Homo sapiens: one gene and its partners. The protein of the gene in region 7 purifies or fractionates together with the protein of the main gene of each other region. This does not show direct contact. Each region holds a gene or a part of one and is shown on either strand. Other genes may lie near its edges.

Region 1 (4,013 bases), on a different chromosome or scaffold from region 7:
TTCTCCCTCTCTCCAAAGCCCGCATATGTACACATGGCTACTTGTCCAAGTTTTAAACTAACTTTATTGTAGTTTTAAACTGTTCTTTTTTTTTTTTTTTTTTTTTTTTGAGATATTGTCTCGCACTGTCACCCAGGCTGGCATGCAGCAGTGTGATCTCTGCTCAACCTCTGCCTCCCAGGTTCAAGCGATTCTCCTACCTCAGCCTCCCAAATAGCTGAGACTACAGGTGCACATCACCACGTCCGGCTAATTTTGATATTTTTAGTAGAGATGGGGTTTCACCATGTTGGCCAGGCTGGTCTCAAACTCCTGACTTCAAGTGATCCACCTGCCTCAGCCTCCCAAAGTGCTGGGATTCCAGGCACAAACCACCACACCAGGCCCACCATTCATCTTAAATGAGATTTTCTACCTTAGGTTAAATGGGAAGTTTCTGAAAGTTGAGGAAGAGAGGATGGGAGAAGCAAGCCTGCTCTCTACGCCAACCAAAGGAAATACATCGGACTTGTGCTAAGACAGAATGACAGAAACTCACCTTCATGTAGCAGAAAGTAGCATTTCTCAAATATCCTGTGATGTCTGAGACCCTCAAAGAGCTTTAAGGCCGGGGTTACAAACCCTGAGCCTAGTAAACAACAGTCATCGATGCGATGCCAGATTATCCAACACTTAGAGCTGAAGACACTTACTGGTATCAAAGAAACCCTGTGCAAGCTCCAGCACCCAGCTGCCCCAAGCACTGCGCAGAAACCATCTTCCTGCCCCACCGCAAAGCAGTGCAGGCAGAATGAACCTTCAGAGAGACAAGTGAGAAGCAACGAAGACACAGGAGAACTTCAAGGTCTCCAGTAATCTCTGGGCTGCTAAGTCCAAAGCTGGAGCTCCAGTCCCTAACTCATGTTGCTGCAGCATCTGATACAGAAGTGGGGTGGATCCTCTCCCAGTTTCCACTCCGGGTTTTCTTAACATTCATCTGGCCACCCCTTCCTTCTCAGGATCCTTCAAAAGCTGGTGTTCCCAAGTTCCAGCTGGGGCCTCTGCTCAAGGGGGACACGCTCATTCATGCCTTAATCCCATTTTATGTACCTACTCACCTCCAGATCCAAACAGTCACCTACTGGAGCTATCTCCTTAGATGACCCAAAGGCCATCAAGGCCAAAACTTATCCCAAGGCACCAAACTGGCTCCTTCCCTAAGGAAAAACACCGTCATTTACCTAGTGATCCCTGCCAGTCATTCTTTTTTTTGAGACAGGGTCTGGCTCTGGTGCCCAGGCTAGAGTGCAGTGGTATGAGCATGGCAGCCGCCTTGACTTCCTGGGCGCAAGCGATCCTCCCACCTTGGCCTCCCAAGTAGCTGGGACTACAAGTGCATGCTACCACTCCTGGCTAATTTTTGTATTTTTTGTAGAGATGGGATTTTGCCATGTTGCCCAGGCTGGTCTCAAACTCCTGGGCTCAAGCGATCCTCCCGCGTCAGCCTCCCAAATGCTGGGATTACAGACGTGAGCCACTGCGCCCAGCTCCTGCCAGTCATCCTTGACACTCTGGCTCTCCTACAACCAGTTACCAAGTCCTATCGTTTCCACATTTTAAGTGTCTCTCAAGGGCAGCTCTCACTCCATCCCCACTGACACTGCCTCCCTGCACCCTCAGCCAAATTAAATTGTTGTCTGAGCCGGGTGCTCACAGATGTAATGCCAGCATTTTGGGAGGCCGAGGCAGGTGGATCACCTGAGGCCAGGAGTTTGAGAGCATCCTGGCCAACATGAAACCCCATCTCTAATAAAAATACAAAAATTAGCTGGGCATGGCGGTGCACGCCTATAATGCCAGCTACTCAGGAAGCTGAGACAGGAGAATCGCTTGAACCCGGGAGGCGGAGGTTGCAGTGAGCCAAAATCAAGCCACTGAACTCCAGCCTGGGCACGAGAGCAAGAGTCTGTATCAAAAAAAAAAAAAAAAAAAAAAAAAAAATTTGTCTCTCATTTCCATGATATTGTTTCTGCATTCCTCCTACCTTGGACAGTGCCTGACACCAGGAAGGTGCTTAACAATAATAACGTCTACCGTCATTGCCTACTTTTTGAGAGAGGCACTGCTCTAAGAGTTTTGCACCTATTGTGTATGATCCCTAAAACATCTCTATTTTACAGATACGGAAATTAAGGCATATAGAAGTCAGCTAATGTGCCCATGATCACACGGGAAGTGAACCTGGATTCAAATCCAGTTGGCCTCCAGAGCCCATGCATTAACCATTAAGTTCTACTTCGGTCCAATAAATGATATAGGTTTGCATAAAGAAGTCAATCTGGCAGGGCACAATGGCTCCTGCCCATAATTCTAGCACTCTGGGAGGCTGAGGCCAGCCGATCACTTGAGCCCAGGAATTCGAGACCAGCCTGGAAAACACAAGAAGACCCTGTGTCTACAAAGAATACAAAATTTAGCTGGGTGTGGTGGTGCACACCTGTAGTCCCAGCTACTTGGGAGGCTGAGGTGGAGGGATCACCGGAACCCAGGAGTTTGAGGCTACAGTGAGCTGTGATGGCACCACTGCACTCTAGCCTGGGAGACAGAGTTAAACCCTATCTCAAAAAATGAAAATAAAAAGGAAAAAAAAAATTTTTTTAAGAGTCAATCCCATCAAATGAGAAAAGGCAGAAAAGCATCCATATAATTTTGCAATCGAGACATCAATAGTGATGTAAGCAAAACCCCTTTCACTAGGGTGATAGAGGCAAAAACCAGGTGACAAGGACGAAGGAGTGAGAAGAGAGCATTCTTAACAGCTACCACTTAGAACATGCCATTCCCAGGCACCGTGCCAAGCGCTTAACATATTTTTTAATCCTTGCAACACTGCTAGATAGATACTACTATTCCCACTTTACAGATGAGAAAACTGAAGCAAATGAGCTTAAGTAATTTGTACTAGGTCATGCTGCAAATAAATGGCAGAAATGGATTCTGACTTAATTCATCTGACCCCAAAAGCCATGCTATCAATCACAATGCCAAGGTTGATAAGACAGTTTCAAGTCAAATGCCAAAGTGAAAAAAAAAAACAACTCACATGCCATAGATATACAAAGTGCATTTTAGTCACTGATTTTAACAAAGACACAAGTAAGAGATCAACTTTTTTGAAGTTTAAAATGTTTAACTTAGTTTCTTTTTTTTTCAAGACTGAGTTTCACTCTCATCACCCAGGCTGGAGTGCAATGGCACAATCTCAGCTCACTGCAACCTCTGCTTCCTGGGTTCGAGTGATTCTCCTGCTTCAGACTCCTGACTAAATGGGATTACAGGCGCCCACCAGCAGGCCTAGCTAATTTTTGTATTTTTAGTAGAGACAGGGTTTCACCAAGCTGGTCAGGCTGGTCTTGAATTCCTGACCTCAGGTGATCCACCTGCCTTGGCTTCCCAAAGTGCTGGGATTACAGGTGTGAGCTACCGTGCTCAGCCTATTTTCCATTTCTTTAGCAGGATTCCTCCCATCTCAGCACTCATTCATCAGTTAAGAGTATGAAGCAAAGACTGGCACAGTCTTCTGCCAATAGTGTCTTGTTTCTTAATGTGATACAATTCACAGTGTAGAACAGACTTTCACAATAACTCACGTTTAAAAGGAACCAAAGAGAGACTGGGCATGGTGTTTCATGCCTGTAATCCCAACACTTTGGGAGGCCAAGGTCAGAGGATCACTTGAGCACAGGAGTTCGAGACCAGCCTGGACAACACAGTGAGACCCCGTCCCTAAAAAAAAAAAAAAACAAAACCCAAATTAAAAAAAATTAGCTGGGCATGGTTTCACCTATAGTCCCAGCTAATTGGGAGGGCAAGGCAGGAGGATCAGTTGAGTCCAAGAGTTCAAGGCTACTGTGAGCCACGGCTATGGTCACACCACTGCACTCCAGCCTCGGTGACAGGGAGAAACCTTGTCTCAAAAAAAAAAAAAAGATCAAATAAGAAATTACAAGAGAAAGCATAGTTTTAGTTGCTAA
Region 2 (4,498 bases), on a different chromosome or scaffold from region 7:
CCCGGCTGGTGTGCAGGGTGGGGCTGGAGGTATAGTTTATGACCAGCCTCTGTGGATGCCCCAGCCCAGGCCCTGGTTCTGTTGGAAGGAGGCTCTCAGATCGAGGGTCGCATAGACAGGGTCTGCTCTAGGTCTGCCAGGATCGGCCTTTCCAGCAGGATGGGTCCCTGGCATACCCACCCCAGGACCTGGAATCTTCTTGTTCCTGGTTCTTAGCCATCTAATTTTTGTTCTATTTGGACCTTTCATTGATGAGAATTAGCAGCCCGTCCCCACCCCCCAGCCCCTGCCTTAAAGAAGTGGACATTTTAAGCGGCTCGAGTTGGTCTTCGAGTTCAAGAGGACAAATGGAATACAGAATGACGAACCTGGCTTATGGCCAGGAGCCCCCAGTTCCTTTTTTTTTTTTTTTTCTGGCAAGTTTGTGTAACCAAAAGGCCCCAGTTCTTAGCTCAACATGAGAGTGTAAAACCCAGCGTTCAAGGAATGTGAACCAATACCTGGTATGGGCAAGGACAAGGAGGAGAATAGGAAGCAGAAGGAATAGAAGGACCCAGACTAACTCCAGAGGAAAATGGTGAGCTAAGACCTTTACTGCATCACAAATCAATAAATACTTATTGAGAAGCTGCTACATGCAAGATTCTCCTGCCTGTACCACTACGCCCGAGGTTTTTGTACTGTGACACTGAGGGACAGTCTGCCAAGCTGCTCACGGCCCTTCAGTGAGTGGGTGGGGGCGGAGGAGAGGGTCTGTGTTCTGAGGGGACATTGGCCCTGGAGACAGGGTGTGTAGGAGATTCGTGAAGGGGGAACGAGGCACTGGTGGCTGGCTGAAGAGCTCCAGAGCCCAGATGGTCCTAGGACTCCTGGGCTCCTGGCTAGACCCTGAGTGAGGGATCCAGATATTGGAATGCCTGGCTGAGGATCACTCATTTGAGGTGTGACATGAAGAAAGTCACTGGGTCCCTTTCCCCCAGATGTAGGTTTTCTTGGGACATGCCCTGCTGCCCCTGCCCCCTGCCCCCACCTGTCCCTAGTAGGTCACTCAGTGAGGTGAGGCGTGCAGTTAGGGGAAACTCTTAAGGTTTCTCAGAAGCTGGGACCCGCCGGGTCTCCAGTTGGTTACTAAGATGTCCAACTGGGTCAGGGCTCGTGGTCAGTTTGAAGCTGCAGGCAGAGGAAGACGCCCAGTAACCTAATCAGGCGAGGCCAGCGGCTGTGACCGGGGGCCAGGGTGGGAGCACATTGCCCCTTTGGGGCCGCGGGTTTTTAGTCTGATTTGGGGTATTGCCCAGACTCTGTGATTAGACTCAGGGCAGCTTCATGGGCTTGCAACTGGGGCAGTCACACGGGGGCCTGCACCCAGCAGGACCCCCCACGAGGTTTAGTGCTCTGCTGTTGCCTTCTTATTTATAATAATTTTTCAACAAGGGGCCCCATGTTTTCATTTTGCATTGGGTCCCACAAATTATGTAGCAGGTCCTGGTTAGATGAATGGTCCGGCTCTGATTCCACCTACGGTTTGGATCCGAGGGGCCAGGCTTTGGGTAGTCAGCCCTTCTGCCCACTTTCTCCCCGTGTCCTACTTACACTTCCCAGCCTTGGGATCTGGGCAAGCGAGAGGCGGGCTTCTCTGAGCAAGTCTGGGAACATGGTTGGTGGAACTACAAAGTCCACTCCACAAAGTCCACTCCAGCCGGGGGAGCAGGAGGGAGTCAGACAATATCTTAGGGTAAGTTTGGGACAGGAGAGTTGGTAGGAGCCAGGGTTTGGCTCCTTCATGATCTAACCCAGAGTGCAGCCCCGAAACAAGTCCTCTCTCCAGGGGGAGAAAAGACAGTGAAGAAGTTTCCAAGAAACCCTTACAACCAGCCTCTGCCGTCGGCTCACAAGGAACCCTGTGTTTCTCTGGTTGAGCTGCTCCACACACACACACATCTTCTGGGAGCCCAGTGACAACCAAGTCAACTGCACCACTACGCTTCACTGGAGAGACTTGAGTGGTGGCAGCGTAGTGCTGGAGACCATTTTCTTAGCCCACCCAAGAAACCTTTCCAAGAATACCTTATCTCTAGAGATTCTACAACAGGTTCCAAGACATTTGTCAGATTAACAGTTTTCTCACCCTGCTCCCTGACTCCAGCCTGCTGGGATCCTCTTCCTTGCTACCATCTGGTCTCACATTCCCTCAGTTTAGCACATAATTGTTGCCTAATAGCTTCCAGTGAGTGATTTTTTTCTCTGGCCAGAGCAGAAGCTATTTGAGGGCAAAGACCAGGTCCTCAACTTCTCCACCCAACACAGAATGTAGTGCCCTGATGACATAATCATATGGCCAGAGACGAACAGCTATGCATTCATTGACTGATTAGCAATGCCAGCCTCCTTACGGTAAGAAAACCTCCAAAGTACTTTCCTGTCTAGTTCCATATTCCGACCCTAAGAGAAAAGGAGAGAAAGAATGGAGAGGTGAAGTATCCTGTTCCCAGTCACATAGCAACTCAGAGGAGGATGCAGGGCCTGAACCCGTGTCTTCCAGCTTCCTCTAAAGGATGTCTCCTAAGGACAGCAGCTCTCCTTATCTGCTTCTTCCACAGAATGGAAAATAAACTCTTAAAGGGCGGGAGCTGACTGACCTGTCTAGATTTTACAGATCCACAGTGGGAGAGGATTCCCACACTGTCCCCTCTCCCTCGGACTCTGGCAAAGGATGTTAGAATTCCAGACAGGGCCTCGGCGACAGGAAGCTACCCGTGTCTACTCACCAGGTCCTCCAGGTTCTCGAGGTCCATTTCCAGCGTTAGCGGGTAGTTCATGGCTGTGCCGGCTGTGAGTCACCAGACTGGTCACTGTCTTATGTTGAGAGGCTCCCCGCCAGGTGCCTCTAGAGAGGTGGCAGCCGTCAGCTGCAAATTTAAGCAAATGAGCTGCGCATCGTCTCCTGAGGCAGTAGGGCCGCGACCTGCCTCACAACTCATCACTTTTTTTTTTTTTTCCACTGGGTCTTTTCTGTTTTTTTGAAGAAAGAGGGAAAATCCCCCACAGCATCAGTGCTAGTCAAGCATTTCAGCTTCTTTCCCGGCAATAATTGTCTCAACTGGGGCCTATGACTAGTTTAAAGGCTGCCCTCACTTCTCCTCCCTATACCCCCAATAAGGGGCTCACAACTTGTAATGAAACCACCACGCAAAGTCAGCAGGTTGATGAGGGAAACTCCTGATCAACAGAGAACAGGAGAAGAGCTCTCCCAGCAACCTCTCCTCCAAGCCACCTCCAAACCTTCATTTTCCTCACCACTAGGGTGATCAACCATTCCAGTCTGCCAAGGACTGAAAAGTCCCTTGACTTGGGAAACCCCTAAGTCCTGGCAAGTTAGGGCACTTGGTCACACTACTTGCCACCATCCTTTTGCCCAACAGAGGCAAAACCCCTTCCCTTCTCAGCTCAAGTTCAGAAAAGATAGGTTAGAATTTTTCAAAGGGAACAACAGTAAAACAATACTGGAAGACAAAAATGAAATCAACTTTGGAAGGCCGAGGCAGGAGGATGGCTTGAGGCCAGGAGTTGGATACCAGCCTGGGCAACATAGCAAGACCATGTCTCTAAAAGAAAAAAAAAAAGTGAAATCACCAAGAAAAGCACATAGTTACAGAGTCATTTTCTGACTCAAAAATAATGATGTTCTATCTATAAATTAACTTTGTTTGCTCATAAATTATTAACCTCATAAACTACCAAGCTAGAGATGGCTTCAGAGATCATCCAGTCTAACCCTCAATTTTTATTCAGGAGGTCCGTGAGGCCGAGAGGGAGAGCAACTTACCCGAGATCCCACAGCTAACCAGTGGCAGAGCTGGGACTTGAACTCAGGTCTTTTGACTCCACCTTTAGTGTTTTCTCTACTCCAGGCTGCCACTCTTGCAGGCACTCATAACCTCTGTCCTTTCCCTCAACTCTGTCCTGTCTGAGGGCCGCTTCCTTTAAGAAGCCGTTTTGTAGATGTTGATCAATTTCCCTTCCAAGTCTCATTTTGTGGCTTTTTCTTCCAGAAGTGGGCATTTCCTCTCTTGATCCACAATGATGTGAGAAAGATGACTGCACGCACAGAGGCACCCACACATGGTGGCTGCTTCTTGGCCCCACCCCCACCCTTGTTATCACGCTCCCTTTCAGCCAAATCGCCCTTTGCTGGGATCCTACTACCCTTTCCAGTGCCCTCCTTCACCCTCTCCTCCATATTCACCTTCCCTCTTTCCCCTCTTCACACCTTGCTTACTGAAGATGCTTACCCCACTGCATCCCCAACAGATGCATCATTCTTTTTTTTTTTTTTTTTTTTTTTTTTTGAGACAGAGTTTTGCACTTCTTGCCCAGGCTGGAGTGCAATGGCATGATCTTGGCTCACCACAACCTCCACCTCCCAGGTTCAAGCGATTCTCCTGCCTCAGCCTCCCGAGCATCTGGGATTACAGGCATGCACCACCACGCCCGGCTA
Region 3 (4,013 bases), on a different chromosome or scaffold from region 7:
TGGGCTCAAGCGATCCTCCCACCCCAGACTCCAGAGTAGCTGGGCCTAGAGGCACACGCCACCTCAGCTAGTTTTTGTACTTTGTGGAGAGACAGGGTTTCGCTTTGTTGCCCAGACTGGTCTTGAACTCCTAGGCTCGAGAGATCCACCTGTCTCAGCCTCCCAAAGTGCTGGGATTATAGGCATGAGCCACCACACCCAGCCTTCCCTTAAAATTTCCTAAATTGACTACATTTGGATAACAAGAAAAAAAGAATTTATGAAATTTGAGTTTATTATAAGCATTGTTCCTACCATGAATATAAAAGTGTGCACTAGCACAGCTAAGGAAGGAAATGTTTTGGTTAGTTTCCTCTTTGGGTTTTAAGAATTCTATTCTAAAAATGTTAGCCTAAATATACCAATTTAAGTAACAGTTAATATTTTCCTGACTCTAAGAACAGTATGTGACTCTTGCAGAGAATATGGAAAACAGAAACGTTGACCAGGTGTGGTGGCTCATGCCTGTAATCCCAGCACTTTGGGAGGCCAAGGCGGGTGGATCACTTGAGGCCAGGAGTTTGAGACCAGCCTGACCAACATGATGAAACCCCATCTCTACACAAAAATACAAAAAATAAAAATTAGCTGGGTGTGGTGGCACATGCCTGTAATCCCAGCTATCAGGGAGGCTGGGGCACAAGGATCGCTTGAACCTGGGTGGCAGAGGTTGCAGTGAGCTGAGATCGCGCCACTGCATTCCAGCGTGGGTGACAGAGGGAGACTCTGTCTCCAAAAAAAAAAGTATAGGAAAACGGAAGTTGCTCTACAAATTATTAATTTTCAAATAGTTACAGAAATTGCATAAATTATTAAATCCTGAAATTAACCTATTAATATTTCTTCGGGAATTCAGAAGACACTTGATAATCCTGCATTTATTTACTAAGGAAACACTTACTGAGCACTCACGGTGTTGGGGAGAAGAGGGGACCAAATGAGGGAAAAGCCATGTAAGCCCTTAAAGAACTCAAATTCTAGAAGCAGCCACATGAACAAGTAATTGCAATACTTGTGTGTGATGGAAAGGACCTCTGCCCTGACTTTAAAATCTGATCCCCTCTCCCCAACATACCACCTAGTTTTTCATTTCTCAAAGAATAACAAATCTATTACTATCTGTTTAAATCAGAGTGGATTATTTAAAAAAATAGAATGGAGCAAATTCTGCAGGCCAGGGGAGACACTAGACTTCTCCACCCATGCCATAATGACAGCTTGACGGGGATGTGACAGCTGTGGTCCAGGCAGGTGGTATAAACTTGTGGGCTTCTACATACTGACTTTGCTTTCCTTTAGATTAGTTCGCTGGTCTTTAAATTTCCGTGGGCCTGAGAATTACTGCACTATATACATCAAACCACATATATTCTACTTTTTCGTAGATTTTAAGCTATCTCTCTATAGCAATGTACCCCATATGTTGATTTAAAAACCAAATTTCTGAGTAAAATGTGACACCAGCATATTCCCAGGGAGTGCTGCAAAAATCAGAACAGGAGGAGTTTAGGAAGACTGACGTGGATGTTGGAAGAAAAACTGTTTCCTAGATACAGAGGGCAAGGCATCGAGGGGAAAGAATCGCGTGCGCAAGAGCACCACTGGGAAAGGGGAAGGAAGAGCAGTTCAGATTTGCCAAGCCCAGGGAGAGGGGCAAAACGGCAAGAGATAAAGGTAGATGCACTGTTTGGAGCCCGACTGTGTTGTCGACTGTGCTGAAAGCCTGGACTTGAGCCTGTACACATGGACAAATTATAGGAATTTTAAATAACAGAAGACATACTCAGATTTGTTTTTAGAGATTGTTCTTGTTTCAGCGTGGAAGAGGAATGGGAGAAGAGGGAAGGTCAACTTAGAATGTCGGTAAATCCAGAGGAGAGATGATAAGGGCCCCGGGCAGAGGCAATGCCTAAATGTTGCCGATTGGCCAGGCTGGCAGGCGCCCTTATTTCACAGATACATGTTATTAAAGCCCTTTGAGCCAAAGTCATTCCACCTAAAACGTAGACTACTCTGTGGAGGTGTTTTGAGGATAAACAATAATAAGCATCATTAAAGTGTCCAGTAAGGGGTCAAGTACCAGGAGGTACTAAAGGGTTAGTTTCACTTTCTTTAATGTCAATTATTATTGAATCTGTAAATGAGTTTCTGGTATATAAATCTCTGAAGGTAAGTTCATTATGTTTTCAGAAAAAGTTTTAGTTATTATTTCTGCATTTTTTCAGGTCACATGGAAAATATATTTCACATTGCTTATAAGTAAATATATTCTCAGTTTCAGTGTTCCAAATTAGAATATAAGATGAATTTTACCTACCCTGATTATGACCTATTGCTATTTAATATAAAATTCAAAACATTGTTTATCTTTAACGTTCATAAACATTATTACCAGCTCTGAATTAAAAAAAAAAAACTTTCATATTGTTTCAGTCCACATCTTTATGTGAAGAATTAGAGCACGCCATTGATATATGTGTAAAACTAACGGCTTACTACAAACTAGGGCAAAAGACTTGGCTGTAGAAAGCACAAACCATTAAGTTAATAAGCAAAATTGGAAGGGAGAGGGATTTAAATGATATTTATAACTGACAGAAATAACACAAGTATTTTGACTTGAGGAATTTGCTGAAGTAATTATTCTGTTGTTTGGAATATAGGTAAATTTTTTTTTTTTTTTAGAGACAAGGTCTTTCTCTGTTGCCCAGGCTGGAGTGTAGTGGTGTGATCACAGCTCATTACAACCTTGAACTCCTGGGCTCAAGCAATCCACCCACCTTGGCCTCCCAAACTGGGATTACAGGTGTGAGCCAACACGCCTGGCCCAATACCTGATTTTTTAGATCTTTTTTTCCCTTCTTCTTAAGAGATGAGGTCTTGGTCTGTTGCCAAGGCTGCAGTGCAGTGGCTATGCACAGGTGTCATCACAGTGTACTACAGCCTCGAACTCTTGGGCTTAAACAATCCTCCTGCCTCAGCCTCCCAAGTAGCTGGGACAACAGCCATGAGCCACCACACCTGGCCTTAGACCAACTTTTTTTTAAAAAGTAAAAACAGCCAAAACCAGAGAGCTACATAGTCATGTACATGGTCAGGACATATTATCTTTTTTGGCTATCGGAAAGCTCAAAATCAAATTAAAATTAAAAAACAAAACAAAATCAAGTGACAACGTATAATAACCAAAGTATCATCATTTTATTTCTTTCTCTCCTAAGTTGTTGACCCTGTCATCTTCATATTTTATTATATTCATTTTTATAATGCCTTTTTCTTTTGTACATGAGATAAGATATGAGTAAATAAACCTAAAATAGGAGACAGCCACAGACACATCTTTGTAACAGGCCTCAGAACTGGAACACTCCCACACCTTCTTAGACAGGCTTTTTTTTTTTTAAGACAAGGTCTTGCTCTGCTGCCCAGGCTGGAGTGCAGTGGCGCAATCTCAGCTCACTGCAGTCTCCCCCACCTCTGGGGCTCAAGTGATCCTCCTGCCTCAGGCTCCTGGCAGCTGGAACTACAAACACATGCCACCATGCGTGGCTAATTTTTGTATTTTTTTGTAGAGATGGGGTTTCGCCATTTGCCCAGGCTGATCTTGAACTCCTGAGCTCAAGCAATCTGCCCTCCTCTGCCTCTCAAAATGGTGGGATTACAAGCATGAGCCACTGCACTCAGACAGGTATTTTTTAAAAATTTAAATTCCTCAGGTGTTAACTTTAAACCACAATTAAAGCTGACAAAATTATTTAACAGCTTTTATTTACTTCTTTATTTTAAATCAGATTCCTAAAATAAAAATAAACCTTTAGGGATAAGAAAGTTCCAGAAGATGAAGCATATTGATATGTCAAGTCAATTTATTTCAAACACAAAGGTCAAATCAAGGCATATTTATCTATGCCTAAAAATTTAGCTCAAATAAGTTTTGGGATGGCAAAACTCTGCAACATGATTATAATCATTGA
Region 4 (4,013 bases), on a different chromosome or scaffold from region 7:
TACCTGAGGAACTATAAATAGTAAAGCAATTGGGTAGGGGCTCTTAACAGACAGATATTCAAAATGTTAAGGAAAATAAAAGAAGAAGTAGACTTCGTAAAATAGGAACAGAGGGCTAAGAAATAAGAACAAGTAGATCTGAAAAAGAAACGAGTAAAAAGCCTAGAAATATTAGTGCCAATTTCTATGGGTCAATGATTTCACAAGTGAATAGCTAACAGTTATTTCCTGTGGCCTTACTTGGCAGAGAGAGGTGGGGGAAGCAACATAGGAGCAGAAACAGTTCCTTTCTAAGTCTGACTTATAAAATAGGAACAATAAAGACAACAGTTTATTGAACAGGATGGTTTATTGAGCTGTCCAGCACTATAAGCAAATGGCTTACAAACATTTTCCTACTCTTTTTGATGCTTGAGAGAGATACTTTGATAGAAGATTATTCCAAAATATAATTACTTGGTCATTTAGTTCTCTCTTTATTATCATAGGAAACTATGGGGAATTTTTTTTTCTTTAGATTGCAAACTAGTTTTAAAAAGAGCTTGTAATGAACAATTTAATTAGATTGGTTTTGGCTTGCCTAAAAGCTTAAGAAGGTATTAATATTCTAATCAAAAGTCTTGGGAAAGCATTCTTAGAATAAAAAAAGGAAAGAAAATCTTCATTCTTATGCTTTAAGAACCAGGAAAGCTGTCAAAGGATATAAGGTAACTCTTACAAAAGCAATTGTAAAATAAACGTGGTTTGGCCACAATGAGCCAACACCTATGTTTGCCACAGACTTAGATTCCCACCTCACTCATGGCAAATTTATTCAGCTGCTTAAGATTATTTTTTACTCATACTTCGAAAGAACAACAGCCTGGAATTTTTAGACTTTTAATGGCAATGGAAGGAACTTACCTATGATAAACATTTTTCTTTACTCTCACGCTTTCTTAACCCATGGCTGTTCTGAGTCAATGTTTGCCTTGCATTCAAAAAATAATAGTAAAGATTCAAGTAAAACATATTCATTAAGCACTATTTGAAAGATATACCAAGTGCTTTAACATTATCTCACTTTATTCCTACAAAGATCATGTGCAATAAATATCACTGTTCATGTTTCCTACAGATGAAAAAAAACTGAGGGTCATGTTCAGAGAAATTGGATGACTTACCCAGAGCCACACAGATTTGTACGTGGCAAAGGAGGATTCCATTTCAAGTCTTTCAACCCCAAATTCATCTTCCTTTCTCTAAGGGGAAATGGTGCTATGGAATTCATGTAAGCCACAGAGCTTGGATAAAAGGAATAGTAAGACCAAAAATAGGAAAAGTAGGAAGAGGTGGATCCTCCTATGTTTTTAATCAGGGTTCTATCTACCTGTAACTCTTCTGGGAAAAGAAGCAGGATGTGACTGAAACATAGCTGCTTTCTAGATCTCACAAATCTGGCTTTTCTAGTCAATCACATCTCTCTCTCCTTCGGCTTCTCACCAAACCAGCATCCGTTCAGCTTCAAAGAAAAAAGAGCCCTACTGTTTCCCACTCATTTATCATCAATCTAAAGTAACTGCCAATCACAAAAGTCCCATCTTTATTTCTTTCCTTAGAAACAAATTTCTCTAGGGAAGCTTATCAGTAGCAGAAGTGCAGACTGGGAAATGGCCTATGTCACCCTCCCATCTAGAAATGCCCAGTGCACATCCAGATCCCACACCCCCAAGAGCGTTGTGCAATATCTGTTAATTTATGAGAGCTGTTTCCCATAGATGATGCTGCAGGCATTAGTAAGGAGGGCAAAGTTCAAGTGATGACACCATCTCTACTCCACCTGGCTGGTTTCCAGGTGCCATCTCCTGATCCCTCTCCCCACCCCCACTGCCCTCTCACCATCCTTCCCCCAAACCCCACACTCCCCACCAATCTGGGTCAGTGATAAACACAGAGTATTCCACATGCCTCTGATATGATGTAACATTCGACACACTAAAGATAATACTGCCTTTAAGGCTCCTGTCCCCCTGGCTAGACTTAAACTGTGTAGAGGAGGAGAACTGTGACTTTATTCCCCTTGCATCCTGGACACCCACACATGGTAGGTGTTCAGTGAATATGTGATGAGTTGGTGAATACCCACTGAATGTGCTATTTGCATTGCTACTTCCTTGTGCTTCCTTCCACTGTTTCTATCGCCTAAAATTCTTCTCCCTTTTTCCTCCACCCTCGAGTAGGAAAAAATTTGTTTCTTTATTGGGCAGGGAGTTCTGGTCATTATACATTTATGTAAAATGTTCTTCTAATTGGCATATTCCATGCTATGTCCAGATTCTTTCAAGCGAATTCTCATTAAGGTAATAATACCTCACCGAAGTTTCCAGGGATGATCCCCTAGCTGTTCAAAGCTACCTTTTATATATTAAATACCAGTCAATATGAATCAATGGTAACTGAAAAAAAGGCTGATAGCTTGTGAAGGAGTTGGAGTACAAAACTATGCCTATAAATTGATCCTCACAAAGGCAGACTTTTTCCCACAGAAATTGTATTATGAATGCTAGTTATAGTTTGAGACTAGTTAATAAAATTCTACTCACTCCAAACATAGGATTAATGGAACCCACATGAGTTGTGTGCTGTCAAAGTCGAGTCAAGAGGAGAGAGAAGGAGAAGAAAATTTCCTCCCTGTTCTCATAGCTCAGGGCACCCAAGGGATTCTAGAGCGTAAAGTGTACTCCCTTCTATTTTTTACTGCCCTTATTCCCAAGCTGAACCAAATATTTACCTCTGCCCTCATTTTCAGTTATGGAGTTCACTCAGGCCCTTTTCAACCTTCGAGGTTCCTTAACCTTTACATTATTAATTCTTTTTCTAAGCAAAATCCAGCTGATCTCTACTAGATGGTTAAAAGGATAGTAAATAGGTAAATTAATCCACATTAAGCCACAAATGACTGCTAGCCCTAACCCTTTAATGACTAATTAATTTTTAATAAAGAATATGTGTCTATATAAATGAATTTATACTTCTAAGTTGGCATAAGTTCAGAAAAAATAGTAAGATGAACTGGAAAATCTACAAGGTATAGGGAAATCCTCTGGGTGAGGAAGAACTAGTCATACCTCCCTAAAAGCCTAGCCCTAGTTTCTGTTACATTATTTCTTCTTTTCATCTTCTGTTTTCTAAACCACAAGTTTCTAAAAGCACCAAGGAATTTTCTACCTGTTTATTTCGTTTTGTTTTTGTTTCTGTTTTTTTGTCCAAGGTGAGGCCCAAGTTGACACTGAGTATTCTCTGTGAAACTCTGCAAGGAGCAACATGTGATTTCACAGAAATTAGTCTCGATACACTATATTCATGGCTGTAAGTTCTATGCTGCTCACCCATTCATTTGTCCATTCAGTCACTCATTCATGAGACATTTATCATCTGCCTCCTGGAACATACCAGGGCCTACACCAGAAAACAAGGAAACAAGTAAACACTAGTAAACTTTAAACAGGCTCTCCCCACAAGCAACTGACAGACCAGTGGAGAAGACAGATATGTCAACAGATGATTACAATAAAGTTTCAAGGCCGGGTGCGGTGGCTCACGCCTGTAATTCCAACATTTTGGGAGGCCAAGGCGGGTGGATCACCCGAAGTCAGGAGTTCAAGAGCAGCCTGGCCAACATGGCAAAACCCCGTCTCTACTAAAAATAAAAAAATTAGCTGGGCATGATGGTACACACTGGTAGTCCCAGCTACTAGGGAAGCTGAGGCATGAGAATCACTTGAACCTGGGAGGTAGAGATCGCAGTGAGCCAAGATCGCACCACTGCACTCCAGCCTGGGCAATACAGTGACACTCTGTCTCAGAAAAAAAAAAAAAAAGTGTCAAACCTACATCCAAAATGTCAAAGTGCTCAAAAAAGTTGGGAAGGCTTCACCAAAGATGTGACATTTAGGGTAGATAACACCTGTTTGTGGATACTAATGTCCTGGTGAGTCAAAGAAGAAAAGGATGTACATTATATAAGCTGGATG
Region 5 (4,013 bases), on a different chromosome or scaffold from region 7:
GTTTGCTGCTATAATCAGTGCTTATGGTCTCACTGTGTCCTCTGTATATGAAGGAAATCTTATCAAGGCACTGTCAGACCAGGTTCTGTCAGGTTGGTCCCCATTAGAGCTTTTGATGTATATATTGGCAGAAGAGTCATTGAATTGGATGAACTGAAAACAGCTTTGTAACACTGCTTAGTAATCAATAGTAATCAATACAAACAATACTTTTCTAGCCTATCCAAATTCTACCCCTCTTTCAAATTCTTTCTTGAGTCTTTCTTCATGAAAACTTTCCAGTAATTTCTGCATTCATTGGGCTAATTGTACACACCGCTCATTCAACAGATAATCACATGACATTTCTTATAGTTTGGAGCTATATGGTGATTACACTTCTCACTGTTGTTGTCCCCCGCAGCTAGTCTCTTTCAAGGTCAGAGACTATGTTCAATGGCTGTGTAGCCCCCACAGTGCTCTCTACCATGCCTTACATAGAGTAGATGGCCAATAAGTGTTGCTGAATTAAAACATTCTAGATGTACTTAAAATTTAACAATCTTGACCCACAGAATCATAGGATGGTAGATCTGGAAAGGGCTTTGGAGACTATCTCCCTCCTTGTGTGGGGTGAGGAAACCAGGCCCACAGAAGTGAGTTTCCTTTATCAAGATGAGTTGACCAGCCAACGTCTCTATACTGACTCAGGGCTTTTTCTTCTAATTTCGACATTTTATCTCATTGTTCATTGTTACCCTTTGGCTATGGAATCCTGAAGATATTCAAACACACATGCTTTAGTAAAGTGTACATAGTACCAAATACTAGGCCAGCATATTCCAGATTCTTGCGAGCTAGTGTGTGTGTTACCCAGTGGCATCTAGGCTCTTTGGGTCTCCCAAGCTTATGCTCCTAGAAAATGAAGGCATCTTTGCAGAGAACTGATGGTATTGCAGCATGGCATTTCTGGTAGCCTTGCAGGAACAGGGAAGCCTATCAGGAGCTTTGTGAGTTAACAAGGGATCATCACTGCTGTGGCCACTCCTGGTCCCTGCTGCCAAGATGAGGATGGCTTGGAGAAAAATCAAGCAATGTGTGCTCTGTACATTGTTACTTAGTGACTTATCCTGATGAAAGGGGCAGTGTGGGCTGGGCGCAGTGGCTCATGCCTGTAATCCCAGCACTTTGGGATGCTGAGGCAGGTGGATCACTTGAGGTCAGGAGTTCGAGACCAGCCGGGCCAACATGGTGAAACCCTGTCTCTACTAAAAGTACAAAAAGTCAGCTGGGCTTGGTGGTGCACACCTGTATTCCCAGCTACTTGGGAGGCTGAGGCAGGAGAATCACTTGAACTTGGGAGGCGGAGGTTGCAGTGAGCCGAGATTGTGCCATTGCACTCCAGCCTGGGCAACAAAACAAGAACAAAACTCCATCTAAATAAATAAATAAATAAATAAAATAGAAAAAAGAAAGAGGAGGTGTGTCTGGCAGACAGGTGAAATAGAAAAAGCAGACCTGATAATATGAACTTACTAGGTTTGAGGAGACACAAGACTATGTAGACCAAAGCCAAACTTTGACATACCAGAATGTTAGTGCCCACAGTGACAAGGTCCAGGTTCCTGAAGAGCATCCTTATGTGAGATTGGGAAGAGGAAAAAGTGACTATATTGTGCTCTGTAACCAAGAGTGCATTCTCTGGGGAATGACTCTATGGAGGTCAGTCTTGGCTTTATCTAGCTTCGGATTCTGTCTGTGACTTGACTAACCAAATGAGTTTTAGAAAGGCATAGTTGCCTCTTTGGTATCAATCTGTTACAGTACTTAGCTAAACTTAACTTCCTGATGAAGTATGTTCCTTGAGAGAGAGTTCTTCCCAAGAGTTCCTTGGGTTGTATCTCCTGAACAGTTTGCTTTCTTTTTCTTTTCTTTTTCTTTTTTTTTCTTTGAGACGGAGTTTCATTCTTGTTGCCCAGGCTGGAGTGCAATGGCACAATCTCGGCTCACTGCAACCTCCGCCTCCCGGGTTCAAGCGATTCTCCTGCCTCAGCCTCCTGAGTAGCTGGGATTACAGGCATGCGCCACCACGCCTTGCTAATTTTGTATTTTTTAGTAGAGACAGAGTTTCTCCGTGTTGGCCAGGCTGGTCTCGAACTCCTGACTTCAGGTGATCCGCCCGCCTCTGCCTCCCAAAGTGCTGGGATTACAGGCGTGAGCTACTGCACCTGGCGGCAGTTTGCTTTCTTTTAATAATTCTTTTTTTTCCTCTTTTTTTTTTTTTTTTTGAGATAGGGTCTCCCTCTCTTGCCTAGGCTGGAGTGCAGTGGTGTGATCTTGGCTCACTGCATCCTCTGCCTCCTGGGCTTAAACAGTCCTCCCACCTCAGCCTCCCAAGTATCTGGGACTACAGGAGTGAGCCACTATGCCTGACTAAGTTTTGTATTTTTTGTAGAGACAGGATCTCACCATCTTGCCCAGGCTGGTCTTGAACTCCTGAGCTCAAGTGATCCAACAGCCTTGGCCTCCCAAAGTGCTGGGATTACAGGTGTAAGCCACCATGCCTGGCTCCTTTAATAATTCTTTATGGTTCTGTCATTCAGAATTTCTCTACATTTTCAGCCTCTATTTCCTTTTGTGGTAATGAGTTTCACATTTTCAGTCTCCACTGAATGCCTCTCCCATCTTTTGAGGATGAGTCTTAATTAAATATAGTGATCCTCTGTTTTGGGAAAAGCAAGCCCAGAGAACAGGGATGTTCCCCAACATGCTGACATCAGTTGAGATGTTATTGAGGGAAAGAAGAGACTCCTAAATCTTTCTCCTCAGAGATGCTGGTGCTGGTATTGTGCTTAAGAACAAAGGAGGTACCTTAGGCTATTTGCAGTAGCAAGAAGCTAGCTAATTCAGGGTAATTAATTAGTGGGATGTTTCTGGAATGGAGTGGGGAAGACAGGGCCCCTATGATGATGATTAGATAAGGCCAGTTAATGGAGAGCCTTGGAATACTGACCTGTGGAGTTTGGGGCATAATATAATAGGCAGCAGTGAATGGTTCTAAGTTCTCGAGCAGGGGTATATTGTAACTGAAATTTGAACTTTGTTATTATAACTGAAATTTGGAAACTACTGAGCGGGTTTACCTGGATAGAGATTTTGATGAGAGGATGGCTTCTCACTTCAGAATTGAAAGTGTCCCTGTTTGGTTAATTTTCTTTATTGCTACTGGAGCAAAAGAGGGTTGTGCATTTTTCTCTGACCTTCACATAGAAGTAAATCTGGAGGCTGATTGTAAATTATGTTTTTAGTGTTAAGGGAAACTTCCCCTCTCAGCAGACTCTGAGGGTCATCAGAAGAATCTTGAAACAGTCTTAATGGGTGGTTCTACATGTTTATTGTCTTCTAGAGGTAGTGTCTTAGTCTGTTCTGGCTGCTGTAAGAAACTACCATCGACTGGGTGGCTTATAAACAACAGAAATTTGTGTCTCATAGTTCTGGAGGCTGGCAAGTACAAGATCAAGATGCCTGCAGGTTTGGTGACTGATGAAGGCCTGCTTTCTGGTTCATAGATGGCTGTCTTCTCTCCCTTGCCAAAGGGGCAAGGGAGCTTGCCAGGATTTCTTTTATAAGGATGCTAATCCCATTCATGAGGGTGGAGCCTTAGGTGACCTAATCACCCCCCAAAGGCCCCACCTCCAAAATCCATCACATTGGATGTTAAGATTTCAACATATGAATTTTGCAGGGATACAGACATTCAGTAAGTAGCAGGTAGGTAGTAAGAGGACAGATGGCCATCCATATCAGGGAGGTATTATAGCAAAGGCTTATTTCTCCCATGTGTGACCAAAGAGTATCATGGGGCTCTGATCCTTGGGCCTTCTTCCTTAAAGCCATACTTACCAGCTGCTACTGGAGCAGTTTCAAGCAGCCAGCAGCTCCCCTACAGAGCTCTTCCCTGACCACTTACAGCCCTTAGAGGCTGAGTCACCATTCTAACACTTGATTATCGGTCATCTTATTCTTTAGCTGTT
Region 6 (4,013 bases), on a different chromosome or scaffold from region 7:
CTCCTATAGTATCACTAAGGATTTCATCAGATATCTTAGCTGTGGTAGGTGTAGTCTGGGGAGTCACAGTGTGTCCAAACCCTTGGTAGTGACCCATGGGTGAAGGTGGCATAGAAGAAGCAATGGAAATTGCATCTTGTGATGATGATGATAATAAACTTGTATGTTCATTTTGATCTTGATCCTCGGGAAACAATTTTTTCCTGGGATGTCCCCTGACTGTCCGTCCTTTAATATAAAGTTTTCTGTTAGTCAAAAGTTATTTTTACCATTATAAACTTACCATTCTAAAAATAAGCTCCCCACTTCCCCCTCTCCCACTCCCCAAAGTTGATGAGCCTGCACTGTGGTACTGCTTTAAAGTCTTTTTTCATCTCTAAATAGATAATAAATTGCCCTAGTAGGAGAAATTCAATATCCTACCCAACCTATTTGGTTGAATTAAATAGCTGGTACTTACCAACATGCCTTACTTGTTCAGAAATATCATCTCTAATATCTGAGACATCCCACATGGCAAGAAAGGAATCAAAGCATGAGCCCTCTTCTGCTTCTTGGACATATGGTTTATATGAGAATGTGTAATGATGAGCAATGGCAGCGAGGAACATCTCAATACAGATAATAAAATCCTATGAGAACAACAATAAGATAACAGCCACCTTTGGATTTAAATCTAGGTTTGTAGAGTGCTATCTTTCTCTACTTGCTTTTCAAAAGTGCTAAGATAAACAGCTGTGTTTTTTCTTCTCAGATTATATTCATTTTTCCATTTTCTAAAATAATTATTTTTGACCCCTTCAAAAAAAGACAAAATGCCAAAATGTGAATCTATTTTGCACTTCCTCAAGTAGCAGCCTTGAACTCCTGCATTCAAGCAATCCTCCCACTTCAGCCTCCCAAGTAACTAGGAGTATAGGCATGTGCTGTCATGCCTGGCTAAGTATTTTATTTTTTAGTTTTTTGTAGAGATGAGGTCTCTCTTTGTTGCCCAGGCTGATCTCGAATGCCTGGTCCAGTGATCCCCCAACGTTGGCCTTACAAAGTGCTAGGATTACAGGCGTGAGTCACTGCACCAGGCCAGCCTCAAGTATTTCTTAGCAAAGTACATTTCATTCTCAATCACATCAAGTATATTGCATTCCACCACCCAAGGACTACAAGGAGAAATGTGGAAAGAGAATTGGACTTAGGAATAATGAAATCCAGGTTTTATTCATGGATCTGCTACAAATTAGTAATTATGGCCAATTTCTCTAGGGTTCCCCTGTTTTCTCACCTGTAAAGTGAGGATAATAGCCCCATACCCTGTGTGTTGTCAGGTTTAGTGGAGATATGTAAAAATGCTTAACAAATAGTAAAGTTCTATTGAATTCAGAGATGGCACTACTTACCTGGAGTCCGGTGGCCACAGCTTCTACAGTTTGCCATTCCCACGTATGCTTTTCAGAAATAACGCCAACTTTTACCAACAAAGCAATAACTACTGCTTGCCTATATGTTAGGAAAAGGTAAACGCCAAATCTATATCAAGCATAAAATGAGCAGTAGTTTTAAAAATGTGCCATTAAAAAAAAATCCAGTGCAACCTGTGTACCACCACCACCCTGCCTTTACAGCATATTGCTGAAGAAACTCTATGTTAAATATATTAATTTGCTTTACAAATTCATTTTTCTAGTAGTTTTGTCTCAAGATAGGGAGTCAAGCTGAGCATTTCAAGCAAATCTAGAGATAATGGCCCCAGGTAAAATTTAAACAGCAAATAATGACATGGACATGCTTTCATAGTTGTATACATAAGAATATTCACTTCAGTGTTTCTTATAATGGTAAAAAAATTAGGAACAACCTGAATATCAAAAGGAGATTAGTAAAAAGTTATATCCACATAACAGAATACTAAGCAAAATAAAAATAAAAATAAAAATCACCCCCTCCACAAAACAAAATAATATTTCTGTTTACTGACAAAGAACTGTATCTACAATATACTACTGAACATTGTCGAATTCCAAAAATTTTTATAGTATGAAACTTTCTCTGGAGTTTTATATGTGACACAGGTTTACCAAGATGTTAATCATTCTTTTCTGGGTGGTGGGATTTCAGGGATTTTTCTTTTTCCCTTTTTGTATTGTTTCTAGCTTGTTAAATTTGGTGTATTTGTTTCTAGGACCCCTATTACCCACCTCTTTACTAAATTCTTTTTTTTTTTTTTTTTGAGACAGAGTTTCACTCTGGTGCCCAGGCTGGAGTGCAGTGGCATGATTTTGGCTCACCGCAACCTCTGCCTTCTGGGTTCAGGTAATTCTCCTGCCTTCCCTGCCAAGTAGCTTGGATTACAGGTGCCTGCTACCATGCCTGGCTGATTTTTGTATTTTTAGTAGAGACTAGCCATGTTGGCCAGGCTAGTCTGGAACTCCCAACCTCAGGTGATCCACCTGTCTTGGCCTCCCAAAGTGCTGGGATTACAGGCGTGAGCCACTGTGCCCGGCCCTCTTTACTATATTGAACTATGTATAGTTTTACCTTCTGTTTTAAAAAGATTTACTGATTATTTTCCCATATAATTAAATATTCTACATCATGCTTTCTTCCAAACTCCATAGTATTCTATTATATGACAGGGCCATGATTTATTTTAATAATTATTCTAGTATTGACATATTTAGGTTGTCTCAAACTATTTTCTTCATATAAATGTTACAGCGACCATCTAATTATTTCTTTTGAAAATTGTAGAAGGGCTAAAAAGATGAACTTTTAAAAAGAGAAGTAGAGACATTTTAATCTATCTTCCGCATTAAGACTGTTTAAAAATCCTCCTTAATCAACGGTTTTTACTGCCCTTAAAAAAATGAGAACATTTAAAAAAAAGTAACACTTACCAAAAAGAAACAAAAACCACCAGCTTTACACAAAGAAATTTGCCAACAGGTTGGATTGGGCTCAGTTCTTCTTTTAGTACTTTATAAAAGAGCAGGAGACAATACATGGCAAACTAGAAACAAGATTAACATTTAAACTTGTTCAGTAATAGATATGGTAATAGAAATATTAAAGTTACATACCAGAGACCTGGTACAGAGTAATGTTTCAGGCAAACTTTTCTAGGCTTTATTATTCTATTTTTAGATTAACAAGCTTTCATAGTTTACTATAGATGAATATATACTACATACAACATCTTCCGTAAAAATGTTTTTAAGTGTTCACTTCCTGGGTTCCATAAAGGGAACAATAAACAAATGATTGACATAAATGGAAGAAATGGCTCTTGTTCAGCCAAAATAAAAAAATCCATCTGTAACGGCTTTTAAACATAAATTTCTGACCACTCATTTTATGAGGCTTTAGCTTATTACCTAGTCTATCCTATGTAACTAAAGTAACCCATTAAACAAGTACAATTTCAATAAAATTGTGACTATGAAATCTGAATGTAAAGAATCAAACAATTTTTCCTGAGAGCGGTGTATTAGTTCAGCTAGATTTATTTTTTAAAATGAACAAGACTTACTAACTTTTTAGAAATCTGTAATAACCTAGTGTAGTGCTGAATAACAATAAACATTTTCCTGAAAGTTCACTATTCCCTATTAAAATCATATAAAATGCAAATTCAAAGTATTTTAGAATATGAAACCAGTAAAGAAAGAAAGAATAAAGTGATTCATGGTGTCCAATCATCCTTTTTACACATAAGCCAGTTTTTAAATAACTGTCATGAACTAATTATAAAATTTTATTGCCTAATGTTTTTTCCACTTAAAATACATAACTTCTATATGTTTCATCAGGCTTATTTTTAGTAACTGCCTAATATTTTGGCCAATGGAAAGACCACAGTGCATTCAACTAGTCCCTAACATTGGGTTTTGGATTGCTTTCAGCCTTTTGTTATTTACAAGTAATGGGCTTTATATACAAAGATACTTTAGGCAAACATACTTTTGAACACTTCTTTAGAATACATTCCCAGAAACAGAATTACTGGTTCCAAAGAGGAT
Region 7 (4,013 bases):
ACAATCCAGTAGTTTTGACCAATTGTGTATTAACTCTTATAGTCCCCTCTGTGTCTCCCTTTCATTTGGTTACCGTCCACCTCTGCCTCTCCTCTCTCTGGGGAGGAACACAATTTTGAAGTTAAGAGCCCACCACTGAAATCAGTCTATCAAGGTTGAGATCCCAGTTCTGACACTTCCTATTTGTAGAACTACCATCAAGTCACTTGATTTTTCTGGGCCTTACGACCAAACTCATAGGATTGTTTTGTGCACTGTAGTATATAACATATGTGTACGTTTAGCATGATGCCTGACACGTAGGACACTTATGAATACTCAGGAAATACTTCCTTTTTTGAAACTTCATAGCCCAATGAAGTCCCACCACCATTACTAATAGTAACCCAGTGTTAAGCTCTTTGTGCAGCACTTAGAATCTATAGCATCCACTTCACTACTCCTATGGCTCTGCATTATTTGCTTTGTTCTTAGAAAAGGATCTTACCCTCCCCAACTAGACTGTGAAATCCTGGACAACTAGACACCCAACCCATTCTGAGAAACACTTGAACACTTGGTGATTGGTAACAAAATGCATCCACATGTAGCCACTATGTAAAACAAGTGAGAGTCACGACTGCTGCCCTATAAGAGTCTATGTGGCCAGGTGTGGTGATTCACACCTGTAATCCCAGCACTTTGGGAGACTGAGGTGAGAGGATCACTTGAGCACAGGAGTTCAAGCCCAGCCTGGGCAATGTAACGAGACCTCTATCTATAAAAAATGAGGCAGGAGTTGGCAAGAGGTCAAGACTGCAATGAGCCATGATCCTGCCACTATACTCCTGCCTGGGTGATGGGAGACCCTGTCTCAAAAAAAAAAAAAAAAAAGTTTATTTATTTGGCAAGATAATCACATCTCTCCCTTATGGCCCACCACCTGGTTTTATGAATAAAGTTTTATTGAGACATAGCCACACCCATTCATTATACACTGTCTATGGCTGCTTTCACACCATAACAGCAGAATTGGATAATTGTGACAGAGATAGAATTGTTTGCAAAGCCTCAATTACTCTGTGGCCCTTTACAGAGAAAGTTTGCCAAGCCGTGGTCTAGATAGTTAAGAGCACAAGCTCTGAAAAGTTCCACTTTGCCACTCACTGTCTGTGTTGCCTCAGACAAATTTATTTAGCTACTCAGTTTATCCCTGGGCAAGAAAGAATTGAATGGAATCATACATATATCACATAGCAGAAACCCAAAAGTATCTACCATAGAGGTGATATAACAACAAGAGAAGAGACTATTTTTAAAATTACATTGTCAACATATGATATCCAGGATGGATATCATTCCACAGTGTTTTTGTACTTACTAAAAGCTTCCTCAGAAAAGTAATTACTTTAAAAACCAAGATTAAATTTAGCTTCATAGCTTTCTATGATGATACAAACACATCAGGGATGGAGGTTTAGTCATCTTTTCATCCCACATGGAATGTGGTACAGTCCTGGCTCATGAAAGGGAAATGTTACATGTTAAATGAATTGAAGTTCCCTTCTCAAATACATGTAAGATCCTGAAGGTTGGTGAATTGAAAATATAAACATTTGTGGATGTCACCAGATGTTAGAAATGGTACCTTTTGTTAGCATTGTGTTCATATCCTCTCTTCAAGTACATTTTCCTTTGTGCTTTGCTGTTCTTTGAAAAACACTTTCTCAGTCTAAACAGTGTTTTCTCTTTCACTCCTTTTAATTTGCACTAGCCCGGAAACAAATCATCAATGCCTGAGACTGCACTTCTCAGTGTTGCTCAGAAAACTATGGAAGGAAGTGACTGTGTGGGTAGTTAACTTGCTTTCCCACCTCAAGCTTCAAACACATCTACCTGAATACAGTAGGCATGAAACATCTGGCTTAGATCTAAACACGCTTGCCTGCCACACACACACACACACTCGAGGTTCTTCTTAATTTTTCTTGGAACTTGGTAAGAATCAGCGTGTGAGAAATTGCCACACCATACACAACACCCCATCTTGTGGGCTGGCACGTTTTCATGATGTGCTTGCATAAGGGAGGATGCAGAACAGATAGAGCATGGTGCCCACGGAGGTGAACCCTTCTGAGGGGTTCATTCAAACTTCTCAGATGCAGCATACCTAGCCACACTTCACAGTTGCTGATTTTTCCGCAATAAAAGACTTAGTTTGTGATCAGTGCTTGCAGTGCTGTTTTTTGATCTCTGCACCATCTTCCTAATCTCTTCACGTACCTCCTTTCTCCAATAATTTCCCCAGATTCCCCACCACTACAAGCATTTTCCTTCCAGCATGTGCCCATTGTGAATATTCTGAAATCTGAAGACTTTTTTTTTTTTTTTTTTTTTTTTTTACTGTTACCTTACCCCAGTATACATATAATGCACAGAGGAAACTTGGCCACAGAAAAAGAAAAAAGACATTGATTTTGTTATTACAAAGCCAGCGCAGCAGTCATTACGTGAAACTCCAAGCCCTTGTAAGATGAGCAAACACTGAAAAAATTGAGGCCCACTCTGCAGTGATGTTTTTGTAATAAGCATGTTTATAGTATTATAAATTTCACACTTCCACATTTCTATACTTACAAGGTCTTAATCATAATGAATGCCATTTCTGTATTTCTCTTCAAGAAAGGAAATTACCCTTTCCACATGGACTTGAATTGCAAGATTGTTCATAGAGACTGTGGAATTCTGCTCCTGCTGTGATGGCTGTAATGAGTTCTTTGTAGTGTATGTTTATTCAGATAACAATTTATGCTTAAAAACATAACACTTTTCAAGTACACTTCAGTGAACTTGGATCTAGTTCTTATATTCTGTAGGGTAAATAAAAAAGAAAAAAAAAAGGTATAGTCCCTTCCTTCCCAAATAGAGTAAGTACAAAATCATACAGAAGTTCATTCAGAAGCCAGAAATATAATGTTCTTTTTATGAAATGAGAGACTTCTCCAGCTCTGGTAATCTGTTACTTTCTGGTTTTGAATAGTTTTTATTACTTCTCTGGAGTTAATAGTACATTGAAAAAGATGGAACATTAATTATATATATATTTGCTTGTATATATACTTTACATATTGTTTTTAATTGTACTTTTTATCTATTAAATATGATGCCAGCCCTCTTAGTCATTAAAAAAATTGAATTCTGGGCACCTACATCAAAAATTCAACATTACTTTTTTAAATTGTACAAATGAGGATAGTCTATTTGTTTTTATAATTCTTTCCTCCCATCTTCTGGCATTATCAGATATAAGTTTATTGGAGTAATCTCCAATTTATAAAAAGGTTGGTTTGAGAATAATTCAAGTCAGCTGTCTGAAGCTCAGGGTGCATTTTGTTAGAAATGGTGGTCAAGCCCTCAATAGAGTTCTGCAAGATCTCTTTATCCCTACTAGTAGGTAACAAGAATATTGATGATAGAAAAAAACCTGCTGGGTGTGGTGGCTCACGCCTGTAATCTCAGCACTTTGGGAGGCCAAGGTGGGCGGATCCCTTGAGGCCAGGAGTTGAAGACCAGCCTGGTCAACATGGCAAAACCCTGTCTCTTCTCTTCTAAAAATACAAAAATTAGCTGGGCATGGTGGTGCACGCCTGTAGTCCCAGCTACCCACGAGGCTGAGGCAGGAGATTTCGCTTGAACCCAGGAGGTGGAGGTTGCAGTGAGCCAAGATCATGGCACTGCACTCCAGCCTGGGCAACACAGTGAAACTCTGTCTCAAGGAAAAAAAAAAGTTTCTTATTGCTTGGTATAGAACTAACTTGAAAAAATAGGAGGAAATGCATATATAAAGCAACACAAAGACAGATATATGATACGTATCCAATACTTGAAAGGTGATGGTGTTTTGATGTTATTTACAGTAAGTTTTAAGTTAATATATCTATCGGTACCTATTAAATACACTTTTAAAACAGCTTTATTGAGATTATTTATATACCATGTAATTCACTTATTTAAAGTGTACAATTCAGTGGGTT

The links.
Region 1: the proteins of GNAQ (region 7) and TMEM248 fractionate together in Homo sapiens (co-fractionation; one large-scale study listed by BioGRID). This does not show direct contact.
Region 2: the proteins of GNAQ (region 7) and CXCR5 purify together in Homo sapiens (co-immunoprecipitation; one study listed by IntAct). This does not show direct contact.
Region 3: the proteins of GNAQ (region 7) and PI4K2B fractionate together in Homo sapiens (co-fractionation; one large-scale study listed by BioGRID). This does not show direct contact.
Region 4: the proteins of GNAQ (region 7) and AGTR1 purify together in Homo sapiens (co-immunoprecipitation; one study listed by IntAct). This does not show direct contact.
Region 5: the proteins of GNAQ (region 7) and ZDHHC9 fractionate together in Homo sapiens (co-fractionation; one large-scale study listed by BioGRID). This does not show direct contact.
Region 6: the proteins of GNAQ (region 7) and TMEM184C fractionate together in Homo sapiens (co-fractionation; one large-scale study listed by BioGRID). This does not show direct contact.

What each region holds. Positions count from the first base shown.
Region 1 is NC_000007.14:66,927,394-66,931,406, reverse strand, and holds part of TMEM248 (transmembrane protein 248), read right to left. Parts: intron 3,648-4,013; exon of another isoform or gene 3,630-3,647; intron 793-3,629; exon of another isoform or gene 545-792; coding exon of another isoform or gene 539-544; intron 1-538.
Region 2 is NC_000011.10:118,882,263-118,886,760, reverse strand, and holds the start of CXCR5 (C-X-C chemokine receptor type 5), read right to left. Parts: upstream 2,870-4,498; 5' UTR 2,820-2,869; coding exon 2,769-2,819; intron 635-2,768; exon of another isoform or gene 1-634. UniProt on the Homo sapiens protein: Cytokine receptor that binds to B-lymphocyte chemoattractant (BLC). Involved in B-cell migration into B-cell follicles of spleen and Peyer patches but not into those of mesenteric or peripheral lymph nodes.
Region 3 is NC_000004.12:25,271,573-25,275,585, reverse strand, and holds part of PI4K2B (phosphatidylinositol 4-kinase type 2-beta), read right to left. Parts: intron 1-4,013. UniProt on the Homo sapiens protein: Together with PI4K2A and the type III PI4Ks (PIK4CA and PIK4CB) it contributes to the overall PI4-kinase activity of the cell. This contribution may be especially significant in plasma membrane, endosomal and Golgi compartments.
Region 4 is NC_000003.12:148,735,516-148,739,528, forward strand, and holds part of AGTR1 (type-1 angiotensin II receptor), read left to right. Parts: intron 1-4,013. UniProt on the Homo sapiens protein: Receptor for angiotensin II, a vasoconstricting peptide, which acts as a key regulator of blood pressure and sodium retention by the kidney.
Region 5 is NC_000023.11:129,833,701-129,837,713, reverse strand, and holds part of ZDHHC9 (palmitoyltransferase ZDHHC9), read left to right. Parts: intron 1-4,013. UniProt on the Homo sapiens protein: Palmitoyltransferase that catalyzes the addition of palmitate onto various protein substrates, such as ADRB2, GSDMD, HRAS, NRAS and CGAS. The ZDHHC9-GOLGA7 complex is a palmitoyltransferase specific for HRAS and NRAS.
Region 6 is NC_000004.12:147,630,384-147,634,396, reverse strand, and holds part of TMEM184C (transmembrane protein 184C), read right to left. Parts: intron 3,005-4,013; coding exon 2,892-3,004; intron 1,525-2,891; coding exon of another isoform or gene 1,524-1,524; exon of another isoform or gene 1,495-1,523; coding exon 1,395-1,494; intron 633-1,394; coding exon 461-632; intron 229-460; coding exon 1-228. UniProt on the Homo sapiens protein: Possible tumor suppressor which may play a role in cell growth.
Region 7 is NC_000009.12:77,723,948-77,727,960, reverse strand, and holds part of GNAQ (guanine nucleotide-binding protein G(q) subunit alpha), read left to right. Parts: intron 1-4,013.